2 separate regions of the Homo sapiens genome follow, and region 2 is linked to region 1. The links come from fine-mapping of genetic effects on gene expression. Tissue or cell type: whole blood. Region 1 holds a variant in brackets; the other region holds the start of a gene. All regions are shown on one strand. Distances are from middle to middle.

Region 1 (11,345 bases):
CAGGCACTGCTTTTTTGGGGACCCAGTCTAAAACAACATGTTCATTACCTCTCTTTAGAATATGGTGATACTTGTCATTTATTGTCCTTGCTTTGTGGAAAATTCTAGACCAAAGGAGAAGTCCCATCTAACATCCTTCTGTACATCATTACTGGAAATGAAGAGCTGACAGTCATAGACTGATTGCCAAGCAGAACCCCACACTGCTTAACAGCTCGCACAGCATTCCTGTTGATGTGAGTTCTTGTTCTTGTTCTGGTTTTTGAATGGGGGGTAATTTGAGGTGGACAGATAAACCTTGATTTAGATGTTGAAGAGGGTCTCTAAGAGCAGGAGGTAAATTGGAGTCTATAGTCTAAGATTGCTTTGTATATCAGTTATGGTTCTTTGCTTCAAGCAAAGACTAAAGTAAGAAAAAAGCGAGCTATTGGAAGGAGGACTAGATGCTGTGGCATGCCTCCCAATTCCTCATTAGGACTGAGGTATGCTCTCCTCCAGCTCCCAGGATGTTGGCGGCAGGTAGCTCTGAGCTGAGGCCTCCCCTGCAATTGTCCTTGGCTAAGGAGGGCCACCTTGCCCAAGGTTACAGCCCCTTCTTGATGGCAGCCTATACCCAATACCTGGTCATTTTGGAGGTGCAAAGCCTTCGTTGCTTCAAGGCAGGACACCTCTGAAGGGCCATCCTAGCTCCAGCTCCCCAGGAATTGGCTGAGGCCTATGTGCAGTGCACAGTTTCATTTCAGGTCCTAGTCTCTGCTCAATCCTGCTTCCTTTCCTCCCTCACAGGTGTTGTTGCTGAGAGCACTTTCCAGTAATCTTTCTGCACACAAATCACCAGCTCAATCTGTTTCCTGGGGAACTTGAACTACAACAGAATGATACTGGGGAGTTTGCAAAATCAAACTAAACATAGGCAGCAGGAAGGACACAAAGCAGGGGAGCCCCAGAAATCTTAGTGGTAGAAACTTTTAAACCTCTTAGGGTACCACCAGGGTATCTCTGCTCAATATTTAAATCCCTGGAAGGGAGCCTCTGATTGGCCTTGTTTGGGTTGGGAATCAGGGCCCTGTGATTAGAACTACCTGGGGTAGTGGAGAGGAAAGAGAAGCAACCTGTGTCTTCCAGACCATGGTATCTGAAGTTTTCTTGGAGGAAGTCAAATAAATATGTGGGTTGAGGATGGGAGCTCTAAGCAGAGGATGTGGTGGCTCATTTAAGATCACACATTGACAAAGAGCAGAGTGGTGTCAAGATTCTGGGACAGAGGCAAGTTAGAAATAAAACTCTTGTTTTTCCCAAGGTCCATCATACAACTGAAATGGAAGACTATGGCTTGCTGACCAATTCTTGCTCATTTGGGGTTACTTTATATAGGGGGATAAGTGTCCCTTCAGGTGGACTGAGAGTCACCAGAAGATTTAGTGGAAGGACCCTGCCTCTGGGGATGCATATGTAGCTGGTACTAATGAGTACTTTCTATGTATCAGAAAGCCACCAAATATCACTCTTCCTCCCCTGAGTTCAGAACCACCTGACAGACACAGGGGTCATATGGGGCTAGGTCGAAAGATCAGCTTGATTAATAATGGATTGGTGGATGTAGCCTGGGTATACAGCTTCCTAGTACTAGACTCCTACATCAGAGACATCCATTCTCCAACCATTCACGAGAAGAACTGGCCAGACACCGTAGGCTTTCTCATTAGGGCAGGAGCTCAGCACATGGCATGTCCACACTGAAAGAATGAGAGGAAAAAATGAATGGAAAATACAGGTGGTATTGAAGAAAGAGCACTCTTCCTGTGGGGGGTCAGATCCAAAATAAAGAAACCAGATGGGGCTGAATCTAACATGCTCTGCTCCTTCTGTGTAACTCACCACCCAGAGTGAGGAGGAGTGAGGGGAGGAGGAGTGAAAGGACAGGTGTGTCGCTCTGGCCAAAGTCCTTCCATGTGCTCACATGGAGCTGGGGAAGAGGAAGTGTGGAACAACTACTTTCCATATATTTACATATATTAGCATATCTAGTTTCACAACACTATGAAGTATCACTGTCCTGATTTTATAGAAGATGAAACTGAGGCCAAGGCCATCTTCCAAGGATGTGCTGGCTTGGGATTTGAACCAAGGAACTAAGTGTCCTCTGATCTGAAAGCCCATGTTCTTTTCAGTGCCCTTTACCTGCTCCTCATTTGGAGTGCAGGGGAAGGGGAGGACTCCTGGCTCTCTTCTCCAGCCCTCACAGGGGTCCTGAAGCTTCCAGCTCACGTTGGGCCTGGTTGCTTGAGTTACCTCATGTACCTGAGTCTACAAAGGCTTCTATGGGAATGTGACAGATTTGAAGGGGCAGTCACTGGGCCCGTACCAGGAAGGCTGGGAATAGGGCTCCTTTCCTGTGGTGCTTAGCGTTGGTCTCCCCTGCAGGACCTATACCCGCTTGCTAGACCAGGCCGTCCTCACATGGCCAAAGAGGCTGCCACAAAGGCCTCACCTTGCCTCCCACCAGGACACCCTGGGCCAGGGCAAGAGCAGCTGCTTTAGCTCAGCCCTTCAGGTCAGGTCTGCAGTAATCAGCTCCTTCCAAGGAAGGCTGGGCCCAATGGGGTCTCTGTTAGCTTAGGCATGCCCTTTAGGCTTAATTCTCTCTGGTTATGAAGCCCCAAGACTCAACCCATCCCCAGCTGGCTAGTCTATTCTGTTGGACTCTGACATTTTCCCCAAACCTGGCTTTTCTCTTGGTTTCCTTACAAGCCTTTGTGTCTTCACCAAGTTGTTACATTTCTTGCTTTTTCAGTCTCTGCAGATGTTCCAACCACTACACATCCCCCTTCTCCCCCTCCATACCCATCTTCCTCTTCCTGTCTCCCTTTATCCTTCTGTCTCTTCTTCCTCCTCTCTTCTTATTGCTCATCCCTGACCTCCGCCTCGACCTTCCCCTCTTTTCCTCTCTAATCCTTCCCCTTGAACCCCAGGGATATAGGCCTGTCTGCAGAGGAAAGATCTTTGTCATGTGATTACTAAACCCCCAACATGTTATTTGGTAGAAGGCAGCACAATAGGAGTTTTCTTCTAGGGGCAAAGGGGCTATAAAAGATTTCCAAATATCATAGAAAATCACCTGAGGATGCTGAGCTCAGGGCAGCTGCAGCAGGGGTGAAGGTGGGTCACAGCCCCCAACCGCCATGGAGATGAAAGGTAACAAAAGGAGAGGGGAGAGTTCCATACCTCATTTTATTCTCTTGACAGTTTTGCGCAGAATTACCCCTGTCTGTATTATTATCACTTGTAAAAAAGCATTTTTTTCATACCATTTAATCTATCAGCCTTTTATTAAAGCCTAGATAAAAGTAGGAAAAAAAAATCTCATCAACATCAGCCACCAGAAGGGAAATTTCAGAGACTGAGATGATCAGATTTCCAAGTTTACTGAAAAACCTATAGATAACTGCATGGCTGCTCATGCTATTTTATAAAATAAGTGCAGCCAGGTGAGCCATTTAATAACGTGGGAATTGTCGGCTGTGCGGATAGTGGACAGAGCATGAGCTCACCTCGTAAAGGCGTAGGCTCTCGCGGAAATGAACACTGCGGCACACTGCGGGCCGGCAGCACAGCGTCACTCTGTAGACTGAGCCTCCCAGCTTCTCGGGAGCCGTCCACGGTGCAGCCAGCCACTATGGGACACAGTGCCTAGGTCTTTCCAAGAACAGTAGAGCCCACACTTATCCCCTCCCATGTCAGCCACACTCTGGAGCTCACATTTGGAGTAGTGAAAGGCTTTCAAAGGTATTTAATCTCACCACAATCATGAGATAGGTATGAAAACCCTCTTTTCCAAATGAAGAAATTGACCTCCACAGGAGGGAAGGAACTTTGGTGAATCCACAGAGTGGAGTGGCGGTGCTAGGGTGATTACCTAGGGGTCCAGTTCCAGTTCCTGTTCTCCTTTTGCTCCATTGGGCTTATCCCATCACCAAAAACAGTCTAGAGCCGGAGATGTTAAAGAAGCCACCCTTTGACCTGCAGGGTAAGTGTGTGAGAATTGGTGGGTGGGTGGGGATAGGGGAGTCAGGTTTGGGCAGTAGAACGGAGGAGTAATGTATACTCTAAATAGGTTCATTTCCTGACTCCCCCACTTATCTGTGTGACCCTGTATATGTCACTTAACTTCTCTGTGCCTCTATAAAATGAGGAATGATAATAATATCTACCTCATAGGTTTGTGGTAAAGGTTAAAAGAGATAATGGATCAAGCATTTAATACAGTATAGTAAGTTGGATAAATGGTATAGAGTTGGGCCCACTTTTGGAATCAAAAGGAATTTGTAAAAGTGCCTCACACATGCCTGTCCTGTAGAGGTGAGCAAGTATTTTCAATCCCTTCCTGATATCTTTCCTGTGGCTAAGAATCCTTACAGGCACTTGGGACCCCTGCCTTCCTTGCTGTGGACTAGGATGCCTGTAGGTACCAGGTTAGAAGAGTTGCTTCTTGGAATTGCCATGTGACTGTACAATGTGCTATCTGTGGCCCTGCCATTGATTCACAGTATAACCTTGAGCTGACCTCAGTCTTACCTGGATGGGCCTCTGTTTCCTTAGTTATAAAGGGATAAGGACAGAGCTACGTTTGAGGAAGTGTAGTTTGTGAACTTCTACATCAGAATCAACTCCATTGTTGATGGCTGAAAATGTTGATTCATGGGCCTTGCCCCAAGTTGGCTCAATCACAATCTCTAATGGTGCTCTAGAATGTATATTTGTAAAAAGCCCTCTCCACTTGCCCCATGCCCTGGCCTAACTCTCAGAGATTCTGATATAATTGACCATTAATACATAATGAAAGTAAATAATGGATTAATAAATTAAAAATTGATTTACTTTTTAACTTTGGTTGTTTTTAAGATTTTCCCATTTGTTTTTGTTTTTTAGCAGTTTTACTACAT[G/A]TGCCTAAATGTGGTTTTCTTTGAACTCCTCTAGGGTTCATAACACTTCTAGAATCTGTGATTTGATACCTTTTGTCAGTGTTGGAAAATTCTCAGTCATCATGTCTGTAAAAATTGTTTCTGACCCATTTGTTGTTTTCCTCTCCAGGACTCCAAGTACATGTATGTTGGACCTGCTTGCCATGTCCCATTATGTCCCATACATGCCCCTCTACTACCACCTGTATTTTCCATTCATTTTTTCCTCTCATTCTTTCAGTGTGGATATTTTCTATTGACCTATCTCTGAATTCACTAATCTTTTTATCAGCTGTGTCTAGTTTGCTATTAAACCCATCTATTTAGTTCTTAGTTTTAATTATTGTATTTTTCAGTTCTAGAATTTTCATTTGATTTTTTAAAATAGATTTTAACTCTTTGCTAAAATTAATTTCTTGGACATATTAATCAGTTATTTTGAAAGTCTTTGTGTGATCATTCCAACATCAGAGTCTCCTTAGAGCTTTTTCTTTCTATGTCTATTTTTTCTCTTGGTTTCTGGCCTTGCACATCTCCCAATATGCTTCATAATTCATTTATTTAAAAAAAGTTTGTTTTTTTTTTTTGAGATGGAGTCTCACTCTGTTGCCCAGGCTGGAGTGCAGTGGCGTGATCTCTTGGCTCACTGCAACCTCCACCTCCTGCATTCAAGCGATTTTCCTGCCTCAGCCTCCCAAGTATCTGGGCCTACAGGCACATGCCACCACTCCTGGCTAATTTTTTTTTTTTTTGTATTTTTAGTAGAGACGGGGTTTCACCACGTTATCCAGGATGGTCTTGATCTCCTGGCCTCGTGATCTGCCCGCCTCGCCTCCCAAACTGCTGGTATTACAGACATGAGCGCCACCACACCTGGTCTTGTTTTTGTAACTTTTTATTGAATGTCAGGCATTGTGTATGAAAAACTGAAGAGAGAATTTGAGCCTCTGGATGATGCTATTTTCCCCTTAGAGCATTTACTTCTTTCTGCTTTTGGAAGTCAAGATAGGGGCAGATTGTTATAATCCAGTCTGGGATTGAGCAGATTTGAAGCCAGTCTTTAGTTTTTGTGAATACTGGCTTATTTGGGTTAGTCCTTATTCCCAGGCTTCAGGAGTTCCTTCTGAAAGCTTGGGTTGCATACCAGGGCCGCTCCTTTTTGGTGATGGCTGCACTATTTTTGTTTCCCCAGGATGGTGGGGCAGCAAAGCTCTGCTTAGCTTTGTAGACTCCTGGCTGCCAGTTTCTACTTCATTTCTCCTCTTGGCTTCTTCACTGATCAGTTTCTACAAAGCACAACTTCTCAGCTTTTAAGTTTTTCTTAAGAATCAACAAATGCTTTGAGGCAAAAAGCTGTGCCAAATATCAGGTTCAGTTCTGTGCTTTCTTTCTCTCTGAGATCTTGGTGCCGTAAGACCTCACCACATTTGATAGCTCTCTGATGCGTTCAAACAGGGCATTTCTATTTGTTCTTGGTAGTAGAGTTGATCTGAATATATTAGCCTATCAAAGGCAGAAATGGAACTCCCTGATAGTGGTTTTTAATCTCTTTGGGTGATTTGAATGTAAGATGCACTGGACAAAATCAACTCCTTGCCACATCATAAGAACCACCTTAGTCTGTTGTTTAAAAATGTTGATTTTTCTGGTCCTATCCTAGATGTACTGAACCAGAATTTCCAGAAAAAAAAGACTGATTTGTTGTGCTAGCAAGTGCTTCTGACAAAGGCACACTTGAGAAGCACTGAATAAGTGGCTCTTTAGAGTCCTTCTTGCTCTGGTTGCATATTCTGGTGACCCTAGTGACCCCACCCACCCAATGAACCCTGTATATATAGTGGCAGGAAGGAGCCTGGTTATTCTGATATGCAGAGGGGCAGCATGCTGCCTTTACCACCACCTTCGACTTTAGTTTGCATTCTGTAACTCTCTCCAAAGAGAGAGTGGTAGCTCTCTTTGCTGAATTATTTCTAATTTTTTCCATGGACATTTTAATCAGAGATGACAAATGACTGGTCTTTTGCTAGCAGTTCAATCTAAGAGGAAGTTATTTGCCTCTTAGAGGTACATTAATTTGCGATGGCTTTCATGCAGAAGGCAGAGGGATATTGTGGAAAGGGACTTGGATTCTGGGAATCAGGTATAAGCCCAGGGTACTTGGCTTGGGAATTGTAGTAGTCACTTGCCCCTTCCCTTCCTCCCTCCACTAATGTAAGTTTCCTTTGCCTGCTTGAGGGTATCTCCAAATTAGGTTCTTTTCCAGCTGCCAGTGGTAGGACTAGAGTGCAGTTCTGACCCTGGTCTCTGGAACCCTTTCTCACCCCTGCTGGCTCCTCTCCAGTGGATTCCCCACTGTCCTGCACCAACTCCCTCCCCTTCGTCTCTCACCCACCTCCTTTTCTCCTTTTCTTCTCTTGTCCTTCCCTTCTCTTCTCCTCACCTCCACCCCAATCTTCTTTCCCCCGTTCCAGAATCAGAACAGAGGCAGTAGTGTCCTGTTGTGGACCCTCCCTCAACTGCTTCAGCCTTCTCCAGGACCAGCTGTCAGCAGAAGTGGAGCTCATGCAGGAGGGCAAAATGGTCCAATTCCTTTTCTCAGGGCTATCTAGCAAGACCAGTTCCTGTGGTTCTCTCTGGCTCATGTGAGGATGCTTCCCACTTTGGAGGTCTATGGTTGTCCTAGTCCGTGGCTACCCAGTAAGTGCTACTCAAATCAGTAGGAAAACAATGAAGTGTGCCCAGTGGTAAAGGGGCAAAGGACATAAACAGGTAATTCACACAAGAGGAGACACAGATAGCCACAAATATAAGAACTATTTAATTTCACATTTCATCAAAGAAATGCAAGCTGAAACCATGTGAGTAGTAAAAAATAATCAAACCAGTTAAGTTTGGGCTATGATGCAGGGAAATGGACACTCATACTGCTGGGAGAGTGTATGTTTTTTAGTCTTTCTGGAGAGAAAGTTGGCAGAATATAACAAAAATCTTATAATTTTCTATGACTTTTGACCCTGTCATTCTACTTTCAGGAATTCATCCCAGTGAAATAATGTATGCGATTTGCAAAAGTTCTATACAAGTATATTCAGCATGAGGCTGTTTTATTGTAATAGTGATGACTGCTGCTACCCAGTGAAATACAACCATACAATAATAAGGGGTTGCTACATTCATGCCAGTTGTACACTCTGTTGTCATTAAAAACATCATACACAAATATTTAAAGAGGAAGAATGTCCAAGCTCTTTTTTAAAAAAATAAAATAAAAGCAGTGTATCACAATAATTGTATTTTGGTGGGGAGGAACCAGCATAGAAAAAAGATCAATGGATGCAAAATGTTACCATGTCTGTCTTGTGTGTTTTATCATACACAAAAATCTAAGTAATATGATTATTAAAAAAGAGAAGAAGAAAACAAAAATACTGATTCCTAGCATGTAGGAAGACTGGCCTGCATTCTAGTCCTGAATTTGCCTCTTGTTCTCTGTGAGGCTTTGGACGGGTCACCTTGGCTCTTTTGATGGGCAGTTTCCTCATCTATAAAGCAGATCTGGCCACGCGTAGCAGCATTCATGTCTGTTCAGTGCTTTACCAGTCCCTTTGCTAACCATTGTTTTACTTTGATCTCACATCTGTGCCTTGTAGATCAGCACTTTGTGGGCTGTTGGCTATTTTACTATCACTTGATAATTCGGTATCTCCAAATTAGGTTCTTTTTCCAGCTACCAGTGGTAGGACTAGAGTGCAGTTCTGACCCTCGTCTCTGGAACCCTTTCTCACCCCTGCTGGCTCCTCTCCAATGGAGAAACTAACCTTATTTTCATGTACTGTGATACAAAGAAAAGCTTCTTAAGGGTTATTGGAAGGCAAGCATTTGAAGGAACTAGAGTAGCCTGGCTAATGACCTGGTGCAGTGGCTGAGTTACAGCTGGTCTGGAGGGCAGATGATCCACAAGGTTGGGTCTGGGGTCAGTTAGTAGTTGAGGATGGGGAGGTTGGGAGCAGGTCAAGGCGGGACCGGAACAGGCCTAGGAGAAGTGTTGAAAAAGCCAGAAAACAGTGATTGAGAGAACTGCTCCAGGTTGAGGGGATGCTCTAGGAGTGGTAGCTTTGCTGGAGGTTCAGCTCAGGGTCCTGGAGGTCAGATACCAGGACTTGGAGGCCTCAAGAAAAGAGTGGGGAGCCAGCCCAGCAGGGCTTAGCTGGGCAAAGGAGAGACGTTTTTAAGGTTGTGAGCAGGCATGACAGGCACTACTGGAGAGCCCAGAAACAAGGATTAGGCACGTGCAGGCTTACGTGCAAATTGCAAGTCTGCATTTCTGTAAAACCGACAACAATGGAAAATGTGTAATAGATGGACCAATCTAAAGATAGTCTGGAAAAATGACCTCACTTAAGGAAAAATCGAGCAGTTAACTTCCTGCTCACTAGCAGGTCGAAGCCTAATCTTTAAAACTGATGTCCTTATCTCAGAGCTCCCTAGGTGATAATATTAGCCCTCACTGACATGGTCTATCTTCTCCGTAAATACCTTTCCCTCTAACAACAACAATAAAAATGTAGCTTTCTAGCCCACGGGGCTGTTTTTTGTTTCCTAATATGCCCTGAACTGAACTCCTTGGTTTATGGAAGAAGCTCAATGTGAAACTGCAGATCGACTCTTTTATCACAATCCTTTTAATTACTCCACGTACCCAATTTTGTTATCCAATTATGGGTAAGATTAAAGTTCATCAAACTACATGTTTTATGTGAAGTTCCTTCATTTCCAAAAGATCAGTGGAACATTAAAGAACAAATGAAACAGTCAGTTGCAGATTATACAGGTTGATTTATCATTGATCTTCCATAAACAGCAAAAACTAGTTCTGATATTTTCCCCAGCATAATAGGCCTATGTATACAGTACACTGTATATCTTTTCATTTCAGCCTTGAAAAAAATATGATATATCCCTAGTGGGAGTCATAATTTCGCTGAATGTATAGTGCTTAAGGCTCCACAGCGCCCAGCCAGTTTGTTACAGCAGATGGATGAGAGCCCACTGTTTCATGAAATTGCTTTTGAATATTTGCAGGATGACCTTTTCCCACACTATCCCACCAAAATGCATTAACTCCTTCTGCACAAGATGGAAAAATGCTATGCCGAACCACGCTCCTGCAAGGTGAAACGTGACAGCCTTTAATATAAAACCTTTCCTGACATGTTCCCTGCTGTCAGAAACAATCTCTGTTTCCCAGAAGTTCCCTTTCAGAGAGAGGAAAGTGGAAGGAGCAGACAACTCCTGGGTGACATTTACCAAGGTCACGCAGCTGGTGTTGGGTGGTGCCAGGATTATAATTCAGGTCTGGCTATCTCCAAAGTGTTTGCTTCTTCCATGCCCCTGGAACACATTGTTTATGCCTGTATTGTAGCCTTTATCCTCTTGTTCCATTTTATTTGAGCAATTTGAGCCAATTTTCCTTCCATCATAACGTGGGCTTATGGTTTTATGCCTGTTCCTCTTTGCCACCACTTCAAGTGTACCTTGCATTTAGTAGCTACTTGGTGTATCAATCAGGGTTCAATCAGAGAAGCAGAACCACTGGGAGGTCCTGCGTGTATTAATATATATTAGGTTTTGTTATAGGATTTGTTAGAGGAATTTGGCTTTTGCATCTTGTGCTAGAGCTTGAAGTCCACATACCAGGTTGTTGGGTAGAGAAGATGGATGTGAAGCAGAGGAGAGCGAGAGCATGCTGGAACCCCCAAGCACAAGTTGGAGACCATGGGATGGACTGGGCCCCGGGTTGCTTCTTTTGCCTCTGACCTTGATGGTATAGGTGTTCTACAAAAGCCAGGGCCCCTCATCCTGCAGCCAAGCGTATATTCCTGGCCTGGGAGTTGGAGAAGCTGAAGCATGATGCAGGGGAAGATGGAGCAGTTGCAGGCCTGGCTGCGAGTGAGATCAGTGGCAGCGTGTGGAAGCAAAAGGCTGCTGCTTCTCTTCTCTCCAAATCTCCCTTAAGGATCTCCCTTGGGACCTGCCCCAATGGGAAACCTACAGGAGAGGGAGTCCTGGGAAATGTAGTTCATCTTAACCAAGTTGTCACATTAGAAAGTCACTGTGCTCCACTTCTGTCAACTTGACACTCACATGGATCACCTTCAACCATACTCTCCAAATAAAGACGAGCAAAGTCATGCTTCTGCACAACATGACACAACCAATGCACATACAGCCAAACATGTGTTCACCCTTTCCCAAGAAGAGGATAGAAAACCCCTTTTTGTCTTGAAGTAACATCTGCTCTTCTCTTGGCTGCTTCACACTCCCCCTTTGATACATGTAACTTAAATCCTGAGATACACGTGCAGTTGCTACTAACCCCATCTA
Region 2 (6,872 bases), 70 kb before region 1:
GAACTCCTGACCTCAAGTGATCTCCCCACCTCAGCCTCCCAAAGTGCTGGGTTTATAGTTCTGAGCCACTTCGCCCAGCCTGGTTTTCCCCTTTTAGATATAATGGTTCAGTAGTGAAGCATAGGTATGCTTTTCTGGTGCCCCCTACCTTCCAATATTTTAGAAGACTGCCTCATGATAAATTTCTAACAGTGGAGTAACTGGTTCATAAGATGTGTGTATAATTACGATATTCTAGCATACTGGAAAACATATTTTCTTTTCGAAAGTATTATATCAATAGAACAATATCATAGCAACCTTATCAGTGTGGGTGGTACTATTAATAATTTTGAGGGTTTAATAGGCATCAAATAAAGCCACTTTAATAGGTCTAAAAAAAATAAGACTTTGTTAAAATGTACATTTCTTTAACTGCTATTAATGTTTTTCTCATATACTTGTGAATGATTTATATTTCTCTGTTTAATGGTCTCTCCTTTTTAAACTATTAAGGGCCTGAGAATTTTCTCTCACATTTGAATGAACACTTTCATGGTATATGTAAATATTTTCCTAGTTTATTGTTCTTTTTAGTTTTTCATAGTTAAAAAAATTTTTAATCTTCATCTGGCTGAATTTATCAATATTTTCTTTGTTCACTGTCCTTTCTTTAGACGTTGATGTATATGACATGTTAACTGATCAATGATAATAGACAATGATTATCGTTATAATAAAAGTCATTTCAGAGGGTCTCATCATACTTGCGAAATATGGTGTTTAGGAAGGGGCGTAATGAAGTGGATACCTCCCTAGAGTGTAATCTATGAGTATGTACTGGCAGAAGGGAAAGAGGAAGAAGAGGGGCAGTTTCCTTCCTCTGTCAAGGCATGACAGCATGTCTCAGAGCACGACGCACACTTACGTAGGCAGAAAATGGCTTTCTAAGTCTTTCAAATGAAATCCCCCTGGCTGGTGGTATTCATCTGCTTTGCCAGTGATGTTCATAAAATGATTCCAAGGCACCGCAGAGCTCTCGAATCTCTCCCAACTATCAAAGGGTTATGCTTGGTTTACGTTTCAATATTAGTTACACTTTGCTCTGAGCTACTTGCAGGCATTTGTAACCCCAGGTTCTGGAACCTGTAAGATGCAGCCACAAATGTTTGCTAGATGAACATTCGAAAAAATTATTTTAACAATTTTCGAATATTTTGGCACTTGTTTGGAAATGTATGGAGTGGAAAGAAGTAGGGTATTTGCATTCTAATCCAGGTCCAGGCACCAAGGGTTTGGCTAATCTTAGATAACTGATTTTTTTTGTGGGCCTCACTTTCCTCATTTGTTAAGAGAGAGCATTAGGCTAGATGATCTCAGAGGGACTTTTCAGTGAGGATTCTATGATTATAGATTGTAAATTAAATAAAATGTCCAGTTAATTGGGTTATCCTACATTTTTAAAACTATGTCCGATCACAAAGAGAGTAGATTATAAAAGAAACCATCAACCTTTTCATAGCTTCAAAGGTATTGGTTTAATTTGGATTTACTGTGAGTTCTCATGAGTTTCAATACAATGCAGTTTACAGTATAATAGAATTCATATTACAAATATAAGTGCATTGAAATCAATGTTGGACAATTAAACAAGAACAAGAACAAAAAGACTTTTTATCCTCTAGAGCTGTGCTTGCTGTTCACTATGGTAGTAAAATGTGGCTAGTCTGAATTAAGATACGCTGTAAGTACTAAATACTCATGAGATTTTGAAGGTTTGTTATGAAAAAAACTATCTCATTAGTGATTTGACATTGATTACATACAGAAATCATTATCACTAAATATATCTTAAAAATTAATTTTTCCTATTTTTGTACTTTTTAAAATGTGGCTACCAAAAATTAAAATTACAGATGTAGGCCACACTGTGTTTCTGTTACACAATGCTCCTTTAGAGGGATAGAAGATTATTTGCATTATTTAAATGAAAATATTTTTGCTTTTTATTCCAGCATACTTAATCTCCAATGATTTTTAAAATGTTAAATTTATTCTCTCATAGGAAAATGGCTTTGTAAAGAAGCTTGAGCCTAAATCTGGCTGGATGACTTTTCTAGAAGTTACAGGAAAGATCTGTGAAATGCTCTTCTGTCCTGAAGCAATACTGTTGACCAGAAAGGACACTCCATATTGTGAAACCGGCCTAATTTTTCTGACTCTTACGAAAACGATTGCCAACACATACTTCTACTTTTAAATAAACAACTTTGATGATGTAACTTGACCTTCCAGAGTTACAGAAATTTTGTCCCTATTTAATGAATAAATTGTATGTATTTTTCTCTATATGCCATTTTTGTCTTCAGTTTTGGAGTCTGGCTGGAAATTCAGCCAAAGGGTAAAAGCTCAACACAGGATCCAGGCAATTAATTATGGGATGATGACCAGGAAGGCGGTGTCTTTTCTGCCCCAGGCAGACTTTTAAGGTGTGCCATTACCCCAAAAGTCCTTTTCTGTGTCACTAGGCTAGACTGCAGACTAGACTGAGAAGCGGACTCAGGCTAGAAGCAGACTCAGGTCGGCTTCCCTCTTCCCTCCTTCCTTCCCATGCTTTCTGCAGTTTCCAGTGCCCCTGGCTGCTTAAGAGTTTCCATTGATGCCTCCTCCCCAGCCTTCTCTCTCTGGCTTGCCATTTGGGGTTGATGGATATGGCAACCTGATATGCAGGATACTCTGGGATATTCTGAACAAAGAAAATTGGTAAATGATTCAACGTGGAGCTAGTGTTAATTTTAATTTTTATTTTTTGGTAAAAATGAACAGATTAGAAAAGTACGTAGTTTGTTAGACCTCGTGTTCTAACTTTTAGGTCAGCAAATCTAATTGCACTATGTATACGCTGTACCTGCCTGGCCTTCCCTTTTTCTTACAACACAGTCCCCCTGGGACTTGCATTAGCTTTCCCTGGAAGCTGTTGATAGATTCCATAAAGAAGCCAGAACTCCCCTCTCAAGCCATGTGCATTCTCACCGGGCACTTAATTAATGCTTTACCTAGGAGGTGTGATTCTTAACGGTGGGGATTAAGACACTGGGGCGGTCAGTAGGGACGTATTTTTGGCAGAGACAGCTCTGGTTTTCTTAGGAAGTCACATCTGAGAGGCAACCGTCTATGCCATCTGAGGCGCCTGTCTACTGGGAGCAGTTTAAGACTTAACAGTTTCTTTTACCTCTTCCTGCAAGTGCCTCACCCACCCCCCAACTGCTTTTAGTTTTAATTCATTTTTGTGTTTTAATCAGAGCTGAGTGGTGGGAATGAACAGTCACTGATGGTTATAACAGGAAGTACCTATGTGGGCACTATTACCTGGAATACATTCACACTAGAAACCCGCAAAATTTGGCTTTTACACTACAGTTATTGCTTTAGCAGTGTTCCCGATTATGTATCATCTATACATTCATCACATAAGGACATTTCCATCAACCACTGTGGTCCCTTAAGATTATAATGGAGCTGAAAAATTCCTAATACCTACTGATGTGGTAGCCAACCAACACATTACCTTTTCTGTGTTTAGATACACAAGTATCACGGTGCTTACAATTGCCTACAGTATTCGGTACAAAATACGCTGTACAGGTGTGTAGCATAGGTGTGTAGTAACTTTGTGTAACTACACTCTGATGTTTGCACAAGAAGGAAATCGGGGCATCTGTCAGACCTATCCCTGTAGTTAAGCGACTCGTGACGATTTCGCTACATGTCCTGCCTTGCCCTTCTTTTCTGGCCCCTGAAGTCCCACTACTGAACAGTACAAGAGATGCCAGGCACCGTGGGTACTGCCGGCCATCTTTACCATCCCCGCCAGTGGCGCTGCCGCCTCCGCGGTCCCGGTGAGGGCCCAGGCTCAGGGAGGTCAGGCGGCAGGGCAGCGACGGCGCCTCGCCACCGCTCCCCTAACCGGGGAGGGCGAGCCGGACCACGGGGACCGCACGAGGGCTGGGTCCCAAGGGCCAGAGGCGAGGTAAGCGCGCGGCGCGCCGCGGGCCCGCGTCCCGGAAGCGGGGTGGGGGCGCTTCCCCGAGCCCCGACCCGCCCCTAGGCCGCGGATCCACCTGGGAGCGGCCAGGGGCGGAGACCGAACCCGAGGGCGCCCAGGGCGCCGAGGGCGGGACTGGACTCGGCTTGGGCGTGAGATGGCGGCGGCAGCGGTGAGCAGCGCCAAGCGGAGCCTGCGGGGAGAGCTGAAGCAGCGTCTGCGGGCGATGAGTGCCGAGGAGCGGCTACGCCAGTCCCGCGTACTGAGCCAGAAGGTGCGAGGCCGCCCGTAGCGGAAGCCGCGGCGGACAGACCCTCCGAAGGCCTGGCGGCCAGCGATTGCTGATCTGTGCATGGTCCGTGCTGGCGCTGGGCTAGGCGCCCCCCCACCCCCCGGCGCGCGCACGTTTCCCCTCCCGGCGCGCGCACGCCCCCTAGTCGTGGTCTGGACGCTCTTGGCACTATGGCGGGGAGAGGGCCCGGTAGTGAAAGTTGTGGGGCTAAAGAGCGAGAGGACGGCAGGGGTTGACAGATTTATCTCTGGGAGGGGAGTTTGTTTGCATGGGTGGCTCTTTTGGTGCTCGAAAACCCTCCGTGGGGATGACGGTGCTGTGGTGAGAGCACGGTGAGAACAGAAAGTTGTGGTAGAGGAGATGGGTGAACACCTGAGTGCCCAGGTTCCCTCAGTGAGGCCTAAAGTTAATGAGCTACGAGTAAGACTCCGGTTATATTAGTAAAATGGCCAGAGAAAGATGCAGGTGCTTTAGACGAGGGAACACCAAAAAAGGTGTGGAGATGCCAAAGGGCAGAACTCAGAGGTTGACTGGACTTCACTAAGCATATGGAGGGCTAAGGCTGTGTCTCAGTAGCTCCAGGGCCTAGGCTTTTCCTGTCTCAGAGTTGGTCAACATTAAATGCTTTTTCTTGAGTGAACGAAAGGAAGACTTGGCTATCATATCCAGGCTTCCCAAGAACGTAGGAAACAGAAGAGAGAAATGAGAGGAATAAGTGAGGGTCCGTGTTTGTTGGTTAGCAGACCTCTGTTTCATTACTTTCACCAACTGCACTGCTATGTATTTTTAGTCTATGTAATGTCAGTTTTCTTATCAATAAAATGGCAGTCATATCCTGTTGTGAAGGCATGTTCTAAAGAGTTTTTGGGGACTCATTTTTGTTAGACACCAGAGGAAGAAAAATTTAATGTCCCCTGAATAAGTACGTATTTGTAATTCTGTTGTAAGTCAAACTGATGATCTGTCTTCCCAGCATCATGCTTCAGAGACACCAGATATTTGGAAACTTGATGTTCCTTGGAATTAGTTATACCATCAGGCTTTCTTAATTACCCTTCACTATTCTATTATCCGTTATTTACTCAAATTCAAGGTGCCTATGGGTTAAAGCAGTAAAGCATATATGCTCATTTCACCCCTCTCTTCATCTATGTAGGTGTGTATGAGGGAATCTATACAGATGTTAATTCGTTCGTTCAAACAGAATTATTTTAGCTATTATGAGGAAGCATTGCTGGGTGTTTTAGTAGATGTAAAGGATATAGACTCTTGTCCTTACTATCTAGTTGTTTAAAATTTAGCTAATTCATTCACATATGTTGAACACCTATGTAGTGCACACTTGGCTATATACTGGGTTGTGGAGATGAAAAAGATATGATTGTTGCTCTAAAGGAGCAGAGAGCCTAGAAGAGGAAACAGACATGAATAAAGAATTGCATTGAAGCCAGATATATGATAAAGGTAAACACCAATGTTGTGGAAACATAGCCTTGGGGAGGGGAAATTGGAAAGCTTTCTATTGGAAAATGTTTGAGATGAATTTCGGAGAACAAGATGAATTCTTTCAGGTGAAGGGAAAGATGGGATAGGGGAGTGTGAGTAGGGATATTTAGGCAAGAGATGACAGGATACAGTTTAGCATGGGCTTTGGAACTGCACAGATCTGGGCTGAATCTGGCGCCATTGTTTTTTAACTGTATATCCTTGGACAGGTCTCATAATCTCTCAGAACCTTTGGTTCCTTGTCTATAAAATGGATAATATCACTCTTGTAGGTCGATTGTGAGAGTTAAAGAAGTGTGTAAAGGGATGTATTCAGAGCTTTACCTATTGTTTGTTATGTCCTTTAGGAAGAGTATAATGGCAGCATTTGGATAATGGGTTGAGGAAGGAAGAAAGAAAAAAAATATGGAGACCAGTAAGGGGCTGTTGTGCCAATTCAAGTGAAAGATGAAAAATATGCAAACCAGAGCATGGGCAGTGAAGATGAGGGGAAAGGAGGCAAATGGGAGACTGTTAAGTGAGAAACAGCAGGACTTGGCAACTGATTGGAAGAGGTTAGAGAATACTGGAAGGGGAGGAGAGTCACCAGTGATTCCAAAATTTAGAGCTTGGTATAATGGTGTTTAGCCTTAGGCATAAAGAAGGTAGGAATTGGAACAAATTTTGGAGGGGCATGGGGAAAATAAAGATGAATTCAGTTTCTAATCTTCTACGTTGTCTTTCTCCGTAGAAGATTAGAATTCATAAACTATAGATGGAAATAGTTTACATAGATACAGAGTCACTGACAGCAATAGAATGACGACTGAGAGCTGGCATTAAAGGAGGAGAGAGAAAAATTAAAAAGCAGACCCATGACCCTCAGTAATAAATACATTTTACTCTGTACAAACAAATATACACATACAAGGAACATTTTACAGCTCTTAAGCACATACAATGAAATTTAATATTTTCTTTTTTTTTCAAGACAGAGTCTTGCTCTGTCGCCCAGGCTGGAGTGCGGTGGCATGATCTCGGCTCACTGCAACCTCTGCCTCCCACGTTCAA

Evidence for each region. PIP is the estimated chance that this variant, and not a neighbour inherited with it, causes the effect.
Region 2: MTHFS starts here. The variant in region 1 is fine-mapped to the expression of MTHFS in whole blood (INTERVAL, PIP 0.97).

Annotation. Positions count from the first base shown.
Region 1 is chr15:79,822,417-79,833,761 of GRCh38, reverse strand. LOC124903536 (a long non-coding RNA gene) reads left to right here. Exons shown (of 2, transcript XR_007064730.1): 1 at 1-236; 2 at 787-9,710. Among named protein-coding and RNA genes, the nearest start is that of MTHFS, 69 kb to the left of the region's middle. The variant G/A (reference allele first, on the strand shown) is at 4,944.
Region 2 is chr15:79,894,298-79,901,169 of GRCh38, reverse strand. MTHFS (methenyltetrahydrofolate synthetase) reads left to right here and starts at 4,156. Exons shown (of 3, transcript NM_006441.4): 1 at 4,156-4,298. The coding sequence starts at 4,182. All of the region lies in intron 2 of ST20-MTHFS (ST20-MTHFS readthrough), which reads left to right. ST20 (suppressor of tumorigenicity 20) reads left to right here. Exons shown (of 3, transcript NR_037653.2): 3 at 2,045-2,328. RefSeq lists an enhancer at 3,658-3,707 and a silencer at 3,848-4,147.